2 separate regions of the Homo sapiens genome follow, and region 2 is linked to region 1. The links come from fine-mapping of genetic effects on gene expression. Tissue or cell type: whole blood. Region 1 holds a variant in brackets; the other region holds the start of a gene. All regions are shown on one strand. Distances are between the middles of the regions.

Region 1 (2,752 bases):
CCACACAGCACTCACACACTTAACCATGCGACCAGGCCGCGCCACGCAGCACTAACACGCTTAACCATGCGACCAGGCCGCGCCACGTAGCACTAACACGCTTAACCATGCGACCAGGCCAGGCCATGCAGCACTCACACGCTTAACCATGCGACCAGGCCAGGCCACGCAGCACTCACACGCTTCAGCATGCGACCAGGCCAGGCCACGCAGCACTCACACGCTTAACCATGCGACCAGGCCAGGCCATGCAGCACTCACACGCTTCAGCATGCGACCAGGCCAGGCCATGCAGCACTCACACGCTTAACCATGCGACCAGGCCAGGCCACGCAGCACTCACACGCTTAACCATGCGACCAGGCTGCGCCACACAGCACTCACACGCTTAACCATGCGACCAGGCCAGGCCACGCAGCACTAACACGCTTAACCATGCGACCAGGCCAGGCCACGCAGCACTCACACGCTTAACCATGCGACCAGGCTGCGCCACACAGCACTCACACGCTTAACCATGCGACCAGGCCAGGCCACGCAGCACTAACACGCTTAACCATGCGACCAGGCCAGGCCACGCAGCACTCACACGCTTAACCATGCGACCAGGCCGCGCCACGCAGCACTCACACGCTTAACCATGCAACCAGGCCGCGCCACACAGCACTCACACGCTTAACCATGCGACCAGGCCGCGCCACGCAGCACTAACACGCTTAACCATGCGACCAGGCCGCGCCACGTAGCACTAACATGCTTAACCATGCGACCAGGCCAGGCCACGCAGCACTCACACGCTTAACCATGCGACCAGGCCAGGCCACGTAGCACTCACACGCTTAACCATGCGACCAGGCCAGGCCACGCAGCACTAACACGCTTAACCATGCGACCAGGCCAGGCCACGCAGCACTCACACGCTTAACCATGCGACCAGGCCGCACCACGCAGCACTAACACGCTTAACCATGCAACCAGGCCGCGCCACGCAGCACTAACACGCTTTACCATGCGACCAGGCCAGGTCACGCAGCACTCACACGCTTAACCATGCGACCAGGCCGCGCCACGCAGCACTCACACGCTTAACCATGCAACCAGGCCGCGCCACACAGCACTAACACGCCCCAACCACACACGCACGCGTGCGCGCGCGCGCGCGCGCGCGCACACACACACACACACACACCACACCCCCCCCCACCGAGCTCCCCTGAGACCCCAGCTCGGGACGGGACTGCGCTGGGAGCTCTGCAGGCAACACCAGATCCCTGGGGCATGCTGGGGGTCCTGGGGATGTTGGGCTTGCAGAGGGGCACACCCTTACCCCTGTGGTGACGTCTGGGGTGGGAAGATTGCTGGGCCCCCCGGAGAAGCGGTTGTAGCGGGCACTCTTGCCTGAGCTCATGCTCTAGAGAGGCATCTACGGTCCTTGGGAAGCACCTCCTGTGGGTGGAGCACAAATGAGGGGCTTGAGAGATGGAGCCCAGGCCCCTGTGAGTCAGACGGGCTGCTGCAAGTGTGCAGACCTGCTGTGGGGCACCGTGGGGCCGCCGCAGCAGCCTTCCA[C/AC]CACCAGCCCCGGCTCAGGCAGGCCTCTAGGAGGCAAAGGTCCTTCACCCCGATCCCAGGTATGCAGAGGCCCGGGCAGGCAGGCGGCTCTGCGTCACCGTCCCTCAAGGCTTAGCCTTTCTGAGCTCCCGAAGAGCCCATCCAGCTCTTCCCCGAGGTGGAGGGACCCCTGCCTGGCTCCCTCTACTCCTCTGGGTCCTGAGTCACAGCCAGTCACCTCCAGGCTGAATGTCCCTGGGGCCAAGGCTGGGCCTTGGTGGGTAGGCCCAGGGTGTGGCCCACGTGGCGGGACGCAGTCACACAGGGACCAGCCAAGGCACGACGAATGTGTTTCCTGCCACGACAGGTGCGGTCAGGACCCAGCCAGCACCAGGCTGCAGCGGGGAGACACCAGCCACACCCCAGAGAAAGAACCTGCAGGGTGAGTCACCGGAGCCCAACTCCACACAAACCGCACTGCACGGAAAAAAGCACAGGAGAGAGATGAGCCCGCCCCTGGAACCCGTGCAGGTCACCCACACTCCCAGCCACGCCACAGGGGCTCAGGGGCTGGTGGGTGGGGGGGCAGGGAGAAGGCATGCGGGAATCACCCTCCCCAGAAGAGAGGGGCTGGTGGGCCTGGGGGAGACGTGGCCCCTCCGTGGGTGCTGGGAGTGCTGGCCAGGCCCAGGGACACCAGTAGGGGAAGGTAAACATTAGAGAGAAAAAGAGACCCAGCCAACAGGTCACACCCAGGACAGAGCCCGGGGAAGGGGCTGTCCATGCTGGATGACGCCCACTCTCCCCCCGTGAGGCACCAGGCTCTGTCAGCAGGCGCCCCTCCTCCCGAGCAGGTCCCACTTTCAGGACTTGGGCAGCCTGGAAGCCAGGAGCCTGGCAGAATGCAGCTGGGACAGCCCTGTCTCCTGCTGGCAGCGGATAGCGCAGCCGAGCCCCGGCTTGAAGCTGAGCTCCCTGTGGGGAGGAAGGCCACGTGCCCAGGACTCCTGCCCCGGGCCCACCTGCACTGTCCACCTCGAGGCCCATGCGCAGCACCCCATGAGGACACACCATGGGCTCAGCTCCCAAGGCAGGAGCCCTCAGAACAAGCTTGCTCTGGGGGCGGTGCAGCAGCAGGGAGCCCACTCCTGCGGCCCTGCTCTCACCCTGGGGAAGCCGGGCTGCAAACCAAGGCCCCAGGGGC
Region 2 (2,622 bases), 42 kb before region 1:
TCTGATGCAATTCACTCTCCTCCTGTCCTCACTTCTCTCAGTAAGTCGCCCACAGGAAGCTCCCTGTCTCAGCCTCTGCTTGAAGAGAACCCAACCTAAAACGGTCTCCCAGAGCAGCCCACCCCAGCCCCGGGCAGCACGCCCCCTCCCCACCGCACCTGAGGTCCCAGATCCTGGCTGTGCAGTCCTCGCCGCCCGTGTACATCCAGCGGCCGTCTTCGTGGAAGCCCACAGACGCGATGTTCTTGTTGACGCCGTCGTAGCTGATGATGGGGTTAGGGTTATTGGAGTTGAGATCATACATGCGGATGTGCTGGTAACCTAGGGACACAGGCTGAACTGAAGCTTGGCTGTGCTGAGGTCGACCCACCAGAGCTCAGGAGTTTAGAGATCAAGGATCACAGATACCTGCAGCAGCAATCATGCTGCGGTCCGGTGTGACCTCCAAGGCATTCACCTGCTGGGACTGTTAAGGAGGATGACGGGAAGGTAGCCCTGAGGCCAGGGCCCCCCAGGCCTCCACCATCTGGCCTTCACACAGGCTGTGGTCCCCACACGAGGCATCCCCCCAGCGCCGCCCTGCCCGCCCCGGGTGGAGGATACGGAGTCCTGGTGCTGCACCGTCCGGGTGCAGATGCCGCTGTGGGCCTGCCAGAAGCGCACGGTGTGGTCGTAGCCTGCAGTGGCCAGGATGACCGGGTCACTGCCCACCGTGCCTGGGGAGGTGTTCATGGTGTGGCCTGCACGGGCCCTAGAGCTGAACGGCAGGGGTCAAAGGTCAGAGCATCTGCAGAGAAGGATGTGAAGTACTTAGAAGACACTCTCTGTGCTAAGTAGATTATAGACCCACAAGGCGCTGCCGAATGGCGCTTATCATTCCCATTTTAGAGTTGGGACAAGAAGCGCAGGTAGGTTCAGGGACACGCGTCACACGCGTGATACCTGGCTCCGGGGCTCCAGGGCGCGTGCTCCATCCCCGCCCCACGCACACGGCGGGGGCGCCGTCCCCCCCCCACCTCCGCAGCCGGCAGGGGGGAGTCACGCGCGGGCGCCACTCTGCCGCAGGGGCGGGCTGCGCGTGCGCAAGGCGGCGGATGGGCCGGGGAAAGCCGAGCGCTGCGGCTGCGCATGCGTAGCAGGCCAGCGGCAGGCCCTGATGGGAAAGGGCGCAGTCTGGCTGGACCCCCGAGCTCCCCTTTCCTCCGGTGACCGCCCTTGCTCCGTCCTGCTGGCCGGCTTCCCCTGGCCGTGCTCTCCCAGCCACCCAGCAGCCGGTTCCCGGCCCCTGGCTCGCGGCCTCCGTACCTTACGGGCGGCTCCGCACTCCGCCGTGTCCAGGACGGCGAGGGGAGCCGGAGCGAGTCGATCGAGGCCGAGCGTAGAGTTATCGATGGCTCCCTAGGGCGAGACCATGGCGCGGGCGGGGGTGGGTGGGACGAGACCAAAGTTCTGGGGCGGGGGGTTCCCGCCGGGAGGAACTCGGAGCGGTCCCCGTGCGCGGCCGCGGGCCCGGCGCGAGGTGGAAGGAAGCTGCGGCTTTCTCTCCGGCCTCCTGCCCACTGGCACCTGCCCTTCTGACACGGCTGTCCGTTTCCCGGGCTGTCGGGTCGCGCTGTTCCGGTGCCCTCCCTGACCCACTACTGCGCCACGCTGGGCTAGGATTGGCTGAAAATTACAGGACTTGAATTCAGACAAGTAACGAATAATTTTTTTTTTAGTGTAAGTATATCCAGGACATTGCATGGGAAATACTTATGCTAAAAAAATTTTATTGGGTATCCTGTAGTTTTACTTGCTAGATCTGGCACCCCAGCCCCAGCCTGACCCTCAGGACATCCCACTGAGCCCAGGGTCCCCCTCAAAACCACAGGCCCTCATTCCAGCTCTGTGAGCTCCACGCCGGTGCCCTCACCCTTGAGACAGGCTGTCGCATGGTTTTTTCCTGCTGCTCTTACAGACCTGGCTGCACCCCTTCCTCTGGCCGCAGAGGGGGTGCATCTTGTCCCTTGACCAGGCCATAGTTCCCATGGAGCCTTCCTTCCTATACCTTCACCTCCTCTCCTTCCTGCCGGTTAGCCTTTAAAAAAACACCATAAAACAATCCCAAATTATCTTCTTCAAAGAGCGGTCCTCACCATTTTTCTAGTTCCACGTCCTCACCTCCCACTCATTCCGCAACCCCAGTCATCTGCCTTTTACCCCCAGCTCTCTAGCTCTCCAGTGGAAATTCCTCAAGGTCACTGACAATCTCACTTTGCTAAATCCAGTGGATACTTTTCCTTCTTCCCACCTTTTTTTTTTTTTTCTCTCGAGACAGAGTCTCGCTTTCTCGCCCAGGCTGGAGTGCAGTGGTGCAATCTCGACTCACTGCAAAACCTCTGCCTCCCAGGTTCAAGCGATTTTCCTGCCTCAGCCTCCCGAGTAGCTGGGATTACAGGCACGCACCACCACACCTGGCTGATTTTTGTATTTTTAGTGGAGACGGGATTTCACCATGTTCGCAAGGCTGGTCTCAAACTCCTGACCTCAAGTGATCCGCCTACCTCAGCCTCCCAAAGTGCTGGGATTACAGGCGTGAGCCACTGCGCCCGGCCTCTTCCCACTTCTTCTTTCTTTTTTTTT

What was found. PIP is the estimated chance that this variant, and not a neighbour inherited with it, causes the effect.
Region 2: MLST8 starts here. The variant in region 1 is fine-mapped to the expression of MLST8 in whole blood (INTERVAL, PIP above 0.99).

The regions. Positions count from the first base shown.
Region 1 is chr16:2,162,577-2,165,328 of GRCh38, reverse strand. TRAF7 (TNF receptor associated factor 7) reads right to left here. Exons shown (of 21, transcript NM_032271.3): 2 at 1,328-1,446. The coding sequence starts at 1,408. Among named protein-coding and RNA genes, the nearest start is that of TRAF7, 8.2 kb to the right of the region's middle. RefSeq lists enhancers at 1-174, 175-948, 1,358-1,857, 1,858-2,359. The variant C/AC (reference allele first, on the strand shown) is at 1,570.
Region 2 is chr16:2,204,196-2,206,817 of GRCh38, reverse strand. It overlaps MLST8 (MTOR associated protein MLST8), which reads right to left and starts at 1,364. Exons shown (of 9, transcript NM_022372.6): 1 at 1,306-1,364; 2 at 604-787; 3 at 409-460; 4 at 159-321. The coding sequence starts at 732. RefSeq lists enhancers at 1-709, 1,549-2,389 and a silencer at 807-1,456.